Linked DNA regions of Homo sapiens. The protein of the gene in region 1 interacts with the protein of each later gene in a biochemical or structural test. Each region holds a gene or a part of one and is shown on either strand. Other genes may lie near its edges.

Region 1 (7,229 bases):
TGTGGGGGAGATTTTTATAGAACAAAATAGAAGGCTTTGTTTCACCGTAGCTTCAAATAAGAAAATAGGAAAAACTCCAAACCTCTAGCAAAACTGTAAGTTCCTCTGAAATTCACACTCTGTGCAAAGTGAAACACTGAGATTTCAGCTCCATTTTACTCTTTCCTGTTCTCTCAGCAATGACGTTCAAAAGCCAGTGACCTATGTCTGTTAGGAAGGAATCTCAGGCAGTGAGTTATAGAATGATAGACAAACTGGTCCAACCCTCTGGTTTTCCTGGTGATCTTAAACAAAATCACCTCCTTGGTTATTCTCAGGTTCTCTCCTTCTCTACCTGTTAGTCGTTTTTGCTTTGCTGGCTGGGTTTCTGAGCCTTTTTTGTATGTTATGATGTCTAGTCTGTTTTCTGCTACTGTAACAGAATACCACCAACTGGGTAAATTATAAACAATGTAAGTTTATTTGGCTCATAGTTCCTGGAGGCTGGGAAGTCTCAGATCGTGGGGTGGCATCATAACTTGGCAGAAGAAGAGACTACACAAGAGGCAGGGAGGGAATGGAGGCTGAACTTATCCTTTTATCAGGAGCTCTCTCCAGCAGTAACTAACCCACTCCAGAGATAACGAGATAATGGCATTAGTCCACCCAGGAGGGCAGAACCCTTTGGCCTAATCACCTCTTAAAGGTCCCAACTCTTAATCCTGTCACAATGGCAATTAAATTTCAACATGAGTTTTGGCAGAGACATTCAAACCATAGCATATGGGTAGGGAGGAGATTTAATATTGAAATGACAGAAATTTACTTGTGGTCAAGAAATAGCTCTCAATCACTACCAAAATGGTATGTGTTGATTTGATCACCTGGACTTGTCAGATAAATGGGTTGAGAGAAAAAGATAAAGGTCAGTATGGGCTAGTTTGAAATAATTTAGGTGATTTTTCAAGCAAAACAAAAAGGTTTTTTGAGCAGCTGGTGGGCTTGAGAGAAATGAGAATATGAAGTATGTTATGAATGTTCCTTTGAACAAAATTTTGATTAATATTTAAATGTTGTGTCAAATATTTTCCCACTGTTAAACTGCTGTTTTCTTGAGCATGATACCACCTGAAGCCCAGGTGTTGTGCTGTGTTTGTCATCCTTGTTTTTTAATTACAAGAGCAGTGGCATTGTTGTTGGCTCTGAGAAGACTTGGGAATTGGGGGCACTTCTGAAAGGCAGTCATTAGACAGAAATTTTATCCCTCAAATTGGCCTTATCCTTACCTCCAGAGTCTGCTATCTCGATTTTGGGGTGGCAGGGCAGGTAGTGTGTTCTTTTGAGGTTACTTCCTGAAGTACATTTTCTTGCCATATGGAATATTCCTATGGAGTCCTGCTTTGCCCAGTCCAATTCCACTGGCTCATTATCCCACAGATCAGGATCCTACCCGTTCCTGCTTTCCAAGGTTAATGCTGAATTTCTCCTACCTATTTTATTTCTGGGTAGTTTCAGTGGAAAATTGCAGATGCCAGGGTAGAATGTCAGGAGTTAAATGCTCAGGCTTACATGACAAGTCTCGAACCAGAAACATATCTTTAATTTGTGTTTATTAGTAAAAGGGAAAGAAAGAAAATGAAACAAAGTCAAGAAGTTTGGAGAATGACGGCCTTGGGGAAAGTGATCTGAAAGTGTTACGTTAAGCGTGACTTAGGGCTCTACAGAAATGCAGTTCTTGGGGAATGTGTGTGGCAACAATTGCGTCTCTGACCCCCAGTCTGTTGGACGCTGTGTGTGACGGCGAGGCCATGGGTGGGAGGAGACAGCTGTAAGCACAGGCACCGGAGGGTCTGTGCCAGCAATATGGTCCTTTCATCTTAAGCCAAGGTGCCAAAGGCCGGGCGCGATGGCTCACGCTTGTAATCCCAGCACTTGGGGAGGCCAAGGCCGGTGGATCACCTGAGGTCAGGAGTTCAAGACCAGGCTGGCCAACATGGTGAAACCCCATCTCTACTAAAAATACAAAAAATTAGCCGGATGTGGTGGCAGACATCTGTAATCCCAGCTACTTGGGCGGCTGAGGCAGGAGAAGCGCTTGAACCCTGGAGACGGAGGTTGCAGTGAGCTAAGATAGCACCATTACACTCCAGCCTGGGCGACAGAGCAAGACTCTGTCTCTAAATAAACAAACAACCAAAGTACAGTTTGTGCTGGCGAACTAAATGGAATTATTACTTTGGTTTAGGGTTTTTTTTTTTTTTCCCAGAGAAAATTCTTGCTTCTGATATGGTGCATGGCTGTTGTGGAGATTGGACTGTTAGTTTTTTTTTTTTTTTTTTTTTGAGACGGGGTCTCGCTCTGTCGCCCAGGCTGGGGTGCAGTGGCGCGATCTCGGCTCACTGCAAGCTCCGTCTACCGGGTTCACGCCATTCTCCTGCCTCAGCCTCCCGAGTAGCTGGGACTACAGGTGCCTGCCACCACGCCCGGCTAATTTTGTTTTGTATTTTTGCCGTTTTAGCCAGGATGGTCTCGATCTCCTGACCTCATGATCCGCCCTCCTCGGCCTCCCAAAGTGCTGGGATTACAGGCGTGAGCCACCGCGCTTGGCCTGGACTGTTGGTTTGTTAATGGGTCCCAGGGGTTCCTGCCTATGGAGGGCTGACGGGGTCCTAGGTTTGGTGCCAAGCCCTCTGGAAACACCGTCTCAGTTAATAGTTATGACAATCCTGTTATGTCCTCACCGTTTCACAGAGGAAGAACCCGAGCTCAGAGAGGAGAGAGTGCACATGCAGCCGACAGTGGCAGGGCAGGACCAGGAAGTCAGGCAGTGTGACTTGGGGGATCCATGCTTATTCTCCTCCCACCTTTCGGAAGGCACAGGAAGGCACCACAGTGTCGCAATTTATGCACAATTAGTGCAAAGTCTCACCTGTGAGCTTGCCTGGGGCAACCAGGGGAGGCTGGGGGCTCCTTCTCCACCAGGCCCCGCTGCCTCCATATGACTCTTCCCTGTATTTTAGCCCTGTAGGTAATTTTCCAGTTTGTGGGCTCCTGTACCACATGCGGTGAGTTAAAAGAACAGGTGGGCAGCGGCGCGGCTCCCGCGTGAGCTGTGTGACTTTGAGCAGGCCCCACTACCTTTCCGAGCCGCATTTCCACCTGGGCGAAGCGGGTTGAGCCGGCCTGGCGGGGAAAGATTCTTTTAACGGGGGAACAACGTAAGGCGTGCACCGGGGAACACGGATGCTGCTGAGTCAATGCCCGCTCTGCCGTTCTCTTTGAGAGTAAGGCTTGCGTCTCGCCTGCTCTAGCGCCCCAGGTTTGAACGCAGTGGGCGCGCAGGAGGAAACATAGATTCACGAATGCAATGCCAGCAAAGTAAAATTTTTCACCCTTGTCCGTTTTTCAGGGTGTTTCAAGCGGAGGAGTCCTGAGTGGAGAAGATTCCGCTTCCCTGTTTTCAGGTTCTGGCAGTCATGGACCGGGAAGAGCGAGTCGGGGCGCGGGTCCCTGGCGGTCGCTGGAACCCTTGTGAGTGAGGTTGGTGCCCGCGAGGGCACAGCGGGCGCTCGGGAAGTCGCAGCCGCCGGCAGAGGGCGCCCCGGGCACACGGAGCGCGCGGCGCTGGGGTTGGGGCGCTCGGGAGGTGCGGGGCACCGGCTGGAGTCCGGCGTTGACCGCAGCCGGGACGCGCCCGCCACCTGGGCGGGGAAGGAGTGAGTCCCCTCGGGGCGCAGCGGCGCGCGCTGGCCCGGATCCCAGCTGCGCCGCGCCCTCCCTGCGAGCGGTGAGTACAGGCGCCCACGGGCATCTCCAACCCTAGTTAGGGGACACTTGGAGACAACGCAGGTCGGACGTCCGCCGGCCGTTCTAGGAGTTGGTGTGCGGGGAATGGGGGGTGCTCCCGCTCGCTTAGGGCTTTGGGTCCGGCTAGGGGTTGACCCCAAGAGGCGCTGGATGTCGGGGCTGAGCTTTGCTTTCAGGGGACTCAAGCTTACTTGAGGTTCTGACATTGGATTTGCCTCGCGGGCCCTGCGCGTGCTGCGCGGGGATCCGGAGACTGGCGAGGTAACCAGGGAGGGCAAGCACTCACCGGGGCGTCCTCCGCCCACCTCGCCCGCAGAACCATCCAGGGGGACCACGTGCGGCTGTCGCCCGCAACTCTGCCTGTCAAGCGAGGACCGCCCCCAGGGCAGGGGAGGGGACGCGCGGGCGGGGTGGGCTGTGCCCCGCGGGAACCCCGCCGGCCTGTGCGCTTGCTGGTGCCAGCTCGGCTCGCTGCCTCGCATTGCCACAGGCTCCTGAGAGGTCGCGGGCAGTGCCTGCGGGGAGGCGCGGGGCCCTGCTCTGTAGGGCTGAAGGCCGCCCGAGGTTCGCCAAGGCTCTGGGCTCTCGAAAGGAAGCCAAGAAAAGAAGCTGCCCAGGTGACCAGTCCTGGGAGTGCTCTCTCCCAAGGAAGCTCCGAGCGCCCAGGAGCCCTTAGCCGGGGTCTAGTGCCCTTTGAACAATCTCCAGCTCTTCAAGGAAGTGGGCTGCCGCCGCCTCTCTTGGGACCTGGCCTGGGATCCTTTCCCCAAACGCACCCCGGCGATTTTTGCGCACCGGGAGCCGAACCCCTGCTGCGCGCAGCTGGCTGGGCTCAGGCGCGCTTCCTCAACGTTTCGGAGCCGCTGCCCCCAGCGAAGTCCACATTCCAAGCTCCAGGGGCTTTGAGAGAGACGACCCCAAGGCAAGGTAGGTGGCTCGGACGGGCTCGCCCTGGGAATTATTAGGTTGGGCTTGACGTGAGTAATGATGCCATCTGCTTAAGTCTTGGAGAAAGACCGTGTGTTTTCCTTTTGCTTTTTAAGGCGTTTGGAGAGCTGCTGAGGAGCCAGGGGCTTGGAGGAGCGAGAAGACATGTATTTTCAGCTGAGTCTCAGAAGGGGAGAATCTCCTGTCACCACCAGAAAAGCAACAGCCCCGAAATGTGATTGCAACTGACTAGCAGAGCAGAGGCCCAGGAGTCACTGGATTGATGATTTAGAATATGCTAAAAAGCCAGTGCTTTATTTGGGGAATTCAGGGGCTTTCTGGTGCCCAAGACAGTGACCTGCAGCAAGGGAGTCAGAAGACAGATGTAGAAATCAAGAGTGACCATCCACGGGATTGACTTGGATTGCCACTCAAGCGGTCCTCTCATGGAATGTTGGTGAGGCCCTCTGCCAGGGAAGCAATCTGGCTGTGCAAAGTGCTGCCTGGTGGGGAGGACTCCTGGAAATCTGACTGACCCCTATTCCCTGCTTGGGAACTTGAGGGGTGTCAGAGCCCCTGATGTGCTTTCTCTTAGGAAGATGAGGACTCTGAACACCTCTGCCATGGACGGGACTGGGCTGGTGGTGGAGAGGGACTTCTCTGTTCGTATCCTCACTGCCTGTTTCCTGTCGCTGCTCATCCTGTCCACGCTCCTGGGGAACACGCTGGTCTGTGCTGCCGTTATCAGGTTCCGACACCTGCGGTCCAAGGTGACCAACTTCTTTGTCATCTCCTTGGCTGTGTCAGATCTCTTGGTGGCCGTCCTGGTCATGCCCTGGAAGGCAGTGGCTGAGATTGCTGGCTTCTGGCCCTTTGGGTCCTTCTGTAACATCTGGGTGGCCTTTGACATCATGTGCTCCACTGCATCCATCCTCAACCTCTGTGTGATCAGCGTGGACAGGTATTGGGCTATCTCCAGCCCTTTCCGGTATGAGAGAAAGATGACCCCCAAGGCAGCCTTCATCCTGATCAGTGTGGCATGGACCTTGTCTGTACTCATCTCCTTCATCCCAGTGCAGCTCAGCTGGCACAAGGCAAAACCCACAAGCCCCTCTGATGGAAATGCCACTTCCCTGGCTGAGACCATAGACAACTGTGACTCCAGCCTCAGCAGGACATATGCCATCTCATCCTCTGTAATAAGCTTTTACATCCCTGTGGCCATCATGATTGTCACCTACACCAGGATCTACAGGATTGCTCAGAAACAAATACGGCGCATTGCGGCCTTGGAGAGGGCAGCAGTCCACGCCAAGAATTGCCAGACCACCACAGGTAATGGAAAGCCTGTCGAATGTTCTCAACCGGAAAGTTCTTTTAAGATGTCCTTCAAAAGAGAAACTAAAGTCCTGAAGACTCTGTCGGTGATCATGGGTGTGTTTGTGTGCTGTTGGCTACCTTTCTTCATCTTGAACTGCATTTTGCCCTTCTGTGGGTCTGGGGAGACGCAGCCCTTCTGCATTGATTCCAACACCTTTGACGTGTTTGTGTGGTTTGGGTGGGCTAATTCATCCTTGAACCCCATCATTTATGCCTTTAATGCTGATTTTCGGAAGGCATTTTCAACCCTCTTAGGATGCTACAGACTTTGCCCTGCGACGAATAATGCCATAGAGACGGTGAGTATCAATAACAATGGGGCCGCGATGTTTTCCAGCCATCATGAGCCACGAGGCTCCATCTCCAAGGAGTGCAATCTGGTTTACCTGATCCCACATGCTGTGGGCTCCTCTGAGGACCTGAAAAAGGAGGAGGCAGCTGGCATCGCCAGACCCTTGGAGAAGCTGTCCCCAGCCCTATCAGTCATATTGGACTATGACACTGACGTCTCTCTGGAGAAGATCCAACCCATCACACAAAACGGTCAGCACCCAACCTGAACTCGCAGATGAATCCTGCCACACATGCTCATCCCAAAAGCTAGAGGAGATTGCTCTGGGGCTTGCTATTAAGAAACTAAGGTACGGTGAGACTCTGAGGTGTCAGGAGAGCCCTCTGCTGCTTTCCAACACACAATTAACTCCGTTTCCAAATACATTCCAGTGTATTTTCTGTGTTGTTCATAGTCAATCAAACAGGGACACTACAAACATGGGGAGCCATAAGGGACATGTCTTTGGCTTCAGAATTGTTTTTAGAAATTTATTCTTATCTTAGGATTTACCAAATAGGGCAAAGAATCAACAGTGAACAGCTTCACTTAAAATCAAATTTTTCTGGGAAGAAAATGAGATGGGTTGAGTTTGCTGTATACAAACAGGTGCTAACACTGTTCCCAGCAAAGTTTTCAGATTGTAAAGGTAGGTGCATGCCTTCATAAATTATTTCTAAAACATTAATTGAGGCTTACAGTAGGAGTGAGAAATTTTTTTCCAGAATTGAGAGATGTTTTGTTGATATTGGTTCTATTTATTTATTGTATATATGGATATTTTTAATTTATGATATAATAAATA
Region 2 (7,000 bases), on another chromosome or scaffold:
TGGGGAATTGGTTCCAGGACCTCCATTGGATACTAAAGTCCATAGATGCTCAAGTCCCTCATACAAATGGTGTAGTATTTGCATATAACCTACACATATCCTCCCATATATAAGTTGTCTCTGTGATTATAATACTTAGACTATAATCTCTAGATTACAATACCTGGTGCAATGTTAGTGCTGTGTAAATAGTTGTTGTGCTGTATTGTTTAGGGAATAATGACAAAAAACCATCTGTACGTGTTCAGTACAAACATAGTTTTTTTTTTCCTTGAATATTTTCAATCTGAGCCTGGTTGAATCCACAGATTCAGAACTCATGGTTATGGAGGGCTGACTATATATGTCTATACACATACAGACGGACACATAAAACATACATATATACCATATACCTCAGGTGGTTTACATATGGTGCTAAGATAACCATGGTTTCCAATTTGAATTCTAAGAGAATATATTATCTTTACTTTGTTTTGTGACTGAAGACCTCACTCAGAGATTTAATAAAGTTTTCTTGTTTACAAATGAAGACTAAGCAACAAGCACATAGATTTTTTTTATTTTTTGAGATGGAGTCTCGCTCTGTTACCAGGCTGGAGTGCAGTGGCGCAATCTCGGCTCACTACAACCTCCACCTCCCTGGTTCAAGCAATTCTCCTACTTTAGCCTCCTGAGTAGCTGGGATTACAGGCATGCACCACCACGCCTGGCTAATTTTTATATTTTTAGTAGAGACGGGGTTTCACCATATTGGCCAGGTGGGTCTCAAACTCCTGACCTTAGGTGATCCGCCCACCTCAGCTTCCCAAAGTCCTGGGATTACAGGTGTGAGCTACTGTGCCTGATCATCAAACACATAGTTTTAAATAAAATATATCTGTTCACAAACAACATAATCCCTCTGTGTCAGCATATGAGAAACATTTAAAGCATAGTCAATTGGGTTTAACTTTTCATAGCACACATTGTGTCTAAGTTGGCCAAATCCATTGTATAAACAAAAGTTTTGAATAGTCAAAGTTGATTGAGAGTAACATGTATTTTTATGTTGGTCATTACCTCTTCAATGAGGCAACTCATGTTGAAACATTTAATTATCTTGATAAGGAAATTACCAAGCACAGCATAAACACAATTAACTATATAAACAGGTTTGGGAACATAAATTTTATCTCTTTGCCTAGAACTTGGTAGAGCTTTATAGAAAGATACTTTTGAATTTCTATGAGAGTTGACATATCCATGTGTTTTCTGAGTTTCAAGTAAAAAAGTAGGATGTAAGGTTTTCCTGTATAACTAAAAAGCACACAGACTTCTGGGTATTCAGTAAATAGTTGTGAAAGAAAGATAAATCTCATGCTGATGAGCAGGCTGGATACACTGATTTAAGTAAGTATAAACTTATTGTACTTTGTCTTTTATCCTAAACTGTCAGTATTTTTCACCAAAATTTATTCTTATACCTATGGCAAATAGATTGAAGACTAGTTATATTTTATGTGGAATCTGAAGCTCTGAAAAGTGATTGAGTGTAACGTATTATATAAGATTGCTTTTAGTGAAGACATTAAATATTGAAATGGTAATATTTGAGGTAATCTATGATTTGAGATGTTTTGAAATACGTTATCTAACACTTTTTCACTGCTCAGAAAATGTAGTTCCCAGATCAGCATTTGCATCACTTGTTAGAAATGCCAAATCTCAGGCCAGGCGCAGTGGCTCAAGCCTGTAATCCCAGCACTTTGGGAGGCCGAGGCAGGTGGATCACGAGGTCAGGAGTTCAAGACCAGCCTGGCCAACATGGTGAAACCCCGTCTCTACTAAAGATAACAAAAAATTAGTTGGGCGTGGTGGTGCACACCTGTAATCACAGCTACTTGGGAGGCTGAGGCAGGAGAATCACTTGAACCCAGGAGGTGGAGGTTGCAGTGAGCCAAGATTGCGCCATTGCACTCCAACCTGAGCAACAGGGTGAGACTCCGTCTCAAAAAAAAAAAAAAAAAAAAAAAAAAGAAAAGAAATGCAAAATCTCAGGCTTTACCCCAGAGCCACTGAATCAGAATCTGCATTTTGGCAAGATCCCAGGATGAATTGTCATGCTCATTAAACTGTTTGAAGCTCTGATCCAAAGCATGTTTTTAGGGGCTTGAACCAATATTGAGCTACATAGCAGCCCCTTAAGCCTAGTTTTTTAATATGATGAATCTGGTTCCTGCCCTTTTGGTTGGTCCCCTTCTTGCCATTTTGCTGAGATTCTGAATAGATAGTTCCTTATATTTTAATATTTATTATGCTCCCATGACATGTTAGGCATTGTGCTGGGCATTATAGATATGATCTCTGCTCTTAGGCAGTGTAATAATAATGTCCTATTGTGAGTGCTGTAATTTTCTCCCTCCTTGTAAACTACAATACTTCAGGAAAATTTCAGATACTTTCTACTAAAAGTTTAGAGATCACTATGCCAGAACTTTTAAGCATGGTATGCGATACTGAATTATTTTAAATAAGGGGGGATAAATGGCTATGTGGGTTTATGCATTGAAAGCCAGAAAAATTGCAGAGGCAGAATGTTTACAAAGAGATTCTTTTTTCTTGAGTTCTAAAGGATTTTTGCAGAAATAGAAAATCCTGTGTGTGTATATGTACATATATATGAATATACACTTTTTAAAATTTAAAAATTGTTTTAAATTTTACTTAGGGTGAACACTTTGGAACAACGGAAGCTACAGAAGCCTTCTTTGCAATGACGCGATTGTTTCAATCTAATGATGTAAGTCTTTTTAAATTTTTTTTACGATGAAAAACCTCCTTTTATTTATTTTCCCCAGGGAACTAAGAGTGTTCTAAATTAGGGAGCATTGCTTGAAATGTTTTAAATTATTTAACTGCTTATAAAACTTATAAATATTCATTATAAGACGTGAAAATGGAAGAATTAAAGTATGCAGTGTAAAACTTTTCCCTGCAGATCTACCGTGAAGTCATAAAGACTGTTAATACCTAGCTTCTGGCATGACACTGTGAAGGTGGACTGATAAAGAAGTCAGTGCACATAGCTACCACATTTGTCAGTTCTTAGTCAAGTTTCTGGTGGGCCTGGGATTGCTGTTAGTCAGCAGTGCTGGCAGTTGAGAAGAAGAGCTGGATGTGGAGTGGGGAAGGGGAATAAGGAATAGAATAAGGAAAAAGAAAAATGAGTACAAACTAAACCTGCCTCTCATTACCTTAGGCCACCCTGACCTTCAGAACATACAGCTGCTGCTTTTTGTCTGTCTTCTAAGTGTTGTGTACATTTTTCTTTTGCCTAGCTCTAAGGCAGAACCATACAGGGAAGGTAATTCTGGGATATGTATTTTCCAGCTTTCCATTAACATAAATTGGCCAAATCCTGCAGTTTTTTGGTATGTATTGCATATCATCACATGTCACATTTTGTGTCAACCCCCAGAACCTCTTGAGATTTGAGTCTTGTTATGGATCTAAATAATGAGAGGTTTTAGGAGTAGATCTTCAGGAAGATCAGCAGTCCCCTGTAAGGCAGCTGTTTCAGGGGAGGCCATTATATACTCTACAGGCAAAGGAAGACTAATTTCCTCACATATGGGATAAAGGACTGATGCTTCTACTAGCAGAAGATGTCACAGAATTTAGGAGTTCGGGGTACTTGGCTTCATCAGAGTCTGTCCATATATCTTCATTCTACTTTTCAGGGCCCCATTCCTTGCCAGTCAAGGTCCTAACTTTAACATAAGATGTCCTGCAAGAGTGTGAATTCAATTTGCATTGTAACTGAGCCACCTGCAGGATATACTTTGTAGAAGTCTCAGCCCTGTAGCCACATGATATAAGGCTTTCTATGAAGGCAGTTATAGATTTCTGGCCCCCTTACCCAGATTTGAGTAGTGCTTTTAAAACTCCGAGCTCATCATTTTCTTTTCCTGAGAAAAGAATTATCCAGTGTACCTAGAAACAACTAATTAACCCATTATACAACTTATTTTTACTAAAATCTTCTATGGCATCCACTAGTTAGTTACCCAAGGCTTTGTCTTCTGTAGGTCCTTGTCTGCAGATGATGATTTTAAATATTTTGCCACTGCATGCTGTGGACTACTAGTAGCCCCTTTACCATTGGAAACTGGTCATTAATACCTTCAATCAAATCAGAGAAGCAACTTCAGGTTCATATCTTTAAGGACTTCTTTTAACCACTTCCTGTAGCAGAAATTCAGGGTTCAGACAGGGAAACAGAACCACTATGAGTATTGTGGAATTAGGTGTTTATTAGAGGAATTAGACTAGAAAACTAGGCAGGTTGAGCTGCTGGAGTAGGGTTCAGAGGGAGGCTGTTACATAAGTCATGGAAGGCTATTGCCTCTTTTGTGGCTTTGTTTTTGCAGCCAGGTGTCTTCCCAAGGCTGCTGTTACTCAGAGGGCTGGCAGTTGGGAAGAAAAGCTGGACATGTAGTGGAGAAAAGGAAGCAGAGTAAGAAAGAAAAAGGATGAGGACAAACTTTTGAAGCCTGTAGCACAGAGGTTTATATTAAGAAAAGAAGATATGAAATTGTCTTCTAGGAAATGGATTAGGGAAATGTAGGATTGTTCGATAGGACTAATAGCCTGTTGAAGTTAGTGCTTATGAATTTAAAGTATTACCAATGTTTTTCTCCAGCTACATGGTGAATGTTTTTCTCCAGCTACAGCCTGCAGGTTAAAGCACTGAAGGCTTAGAGATAGGATTTAATCAGGATTGAAGTTTTGCCAGGTTAGTGAACAGAGGGAGAAGCAAAAAAGTTGAGTGGTTGGAACATCGACTGTGGAATCTTCGGTTAGGAGGGAAGCAAGAACGGGCTGACAGGGACAGCAAAAAGTTGGTAGAACCAGTGGATTGTAGGTCAAGAGAGAGTGAAAGAAGTTTGGAGTCAGGAGTGTGAGTGCTTGGGAATGAAATTAGAAAGGGATGCTGTTACTGATAGGCTGTGGCAGTGGGTGATCATTGTAGGGAGGATGGCATCATTGGAGAAGAGGAGGTCGAGGAATGAAGAGGTCAGAGGTTTAGAGATACCATCTGTATGGATATTAAAATCACCAATACTTATTACTGGGATTGCACTGGAGAGACAGTGAACAAGGTACTGGTATTTTTTAAAAATAAGGGAAGTGACCTGGGGTTTAATGGACAACCAGCAATGGTAGCAGGTGACATAGTATAAAGGCATAAGCTTCCCCACCTGTAGGCCTGGTGGTATGAGGGTTATGGGAGAGAAAACAGCTGCTATTTCAGAGGGTTGCAGGAGGATCCCTGGGAGAGAACCAGGTTTCAGTTAAAGAAAAAGATGGGAACATTCAGAGAAGAGTTTGAGAATATAGGGGATTTTGCTGATGAAAGTGTCAGAGAATATAATGGCGCTGATTAGAAGGGTGGAAAATGGAGTCAGACGAGGTGCTGTACCCAGATGCAAGGAATAAGTCTGCAGGTTATGAATAATGACCAGAGTATTTTAGGCTTTTTGTAGTGACTGAGGTAAGTAGCCATGTACAGCATGATGTGATTAGTTTTAATGATTCCTTAGGCAAAAATACGGAATTGAGGGAGTGATTGTTTTGGGACAAAGAGAGGTAGAGATTTTGCCAGAAATACGTGGAGCTCCTTCCGTTACCAGCATTCCTTTACCAGAAGGTAATTACTGTCTTGAAGTTGGTATTCTTCTATCGTTGTTTATATTAATATATGAGGATTACATAGTTTACATCTGTAATCAATACTTTGCATTTTTGTGTGTCTTAAAATATAAAAATAACATCTTCTTCTTTTGCAATGTTGTTGTTGTTGTTTTTGAGTTGTCGCCCAGGCTGAAGTGCAGTGGCGCGATCTTGGCTCACTGCAGCCTCCGCCTCCCGGGTTTGAGCGATTCTCCTGCCTCAGCCTCTGGAGTAGCTGGGACTGTGGGCACGTGCCACCATGCCTGTCTAATTTTTGTATTTTTAGTAGAGACAGGGTTTCATCATGTTGGCCAGGATGGTCTCAATTTCCTGACCTCTTTATCTGCCCGCCTTGGCCTCCCAAAGTACTGGGATTATAGGCCTGAGCCACCACACCCAGCCTGCAGTGTTTATAATTAATACATTTTTAAGATTTACTGGCTTGTTACATGTACTTCTACTTTATTTACTTTCACTACTATATGGAATTCCAATATGTGAATATACAGTAATTCTATTTATCCATTCTCCCATTGGTAGATATAAGTTGTTCCCACATTTTACCTATTACAAATGATACTGCACATAATGTTTATGTACACAGTGAGACTTTTTCTGGAGTAGATACCTACAAGTGGAATTTCTAGATAATGCTTGTTTGTTCGTTTTTTTTTTTTTTGAGACGGAGTCTTGCTCTGTCGCCCAGGCTGGAGTGCAATGGCATGATCTCGGCTCACTGCAACCTTTGCCTCCCAGGTTCACGCCATTCTCCTGCCTCAGCCTCCTGAGTAGCTGGGACTACAGGCACCCGCCACCACACCTGGATAATTTTTTGTATTTTTAGTAGAGACGGGGTTTCACTGTGTTAGCCAGGATGGTCTCGATCTGCTGACCTTGTGATCCGCCCGTCTCAGCCTCCCAAAGTGCTGGGATTGCAGGCGTAAGCTACCGCGCCCGGCCTAAGCATATTTTCATGTACTTATTTGCCATCTGTATATCTGCTTTGATGAAGTGTCTGTTAAAATTTGTTACCACTTAAAAAAATCAGGTTGTCGGCTGGGCCCGGTGGCTCACGCCTGTAATCTCAGCACTTTAGGAGGCTGAGGTGGGCAGATCATGAGGTCAGGAGTTTTAGACCAGCCTGGTCAACATAGTGAAACCCTGTCTCTACTAAAAATACAAAAAATTAGCTGGGTGTGCTGGCAGGCACCTGTAATCCCAGCTACTTGGGAGGCTGAGGTGGGAGAATCACTTGAACCCAGGAGGGGGAGATTGCAGTGAGCTG

What was found. The genes of interacting proteins can lie anywhere in the genome.
Region 2: the proteins of DRD1 (region 1) and COPG2 form a complex in vitro, tested with the Homo sapiens proteins (one study listed by BioGRID).

What each region holds. Positions count from the first base shown.
Region 1 is NC_000005.10:175,441,183-175,448,411, reverse strand, and holds the start of DRD1 (D(1A) dopamine receptor), read left to right. Parts: upstream 1-4,229; 5' UTR 4,230-4,713; intron 4,714-4,829; 5' UTR 4,830-5,312; coding exon 5,313-6,653; 3' UTR 6,654-7,229.
Region 2 is NC_000007.14:130,658,749-130,665,748, reverse strand, and holds part of COPG2 (coatomer subunit gamma-2), read left to right. Parts: intron 1-2,710; coding exon 2,711-2,782; intron 2,783-7,000. UniProt on the Homo sapiens protein: The coatomer is a cytosolic protein complex that binds to dilysine motifs and reversibly associates with Golgi non-clathrin-coated vesicles, which further mediate biosynthetic protein transport from the ER, via the Golgi up to the trans Golgi network.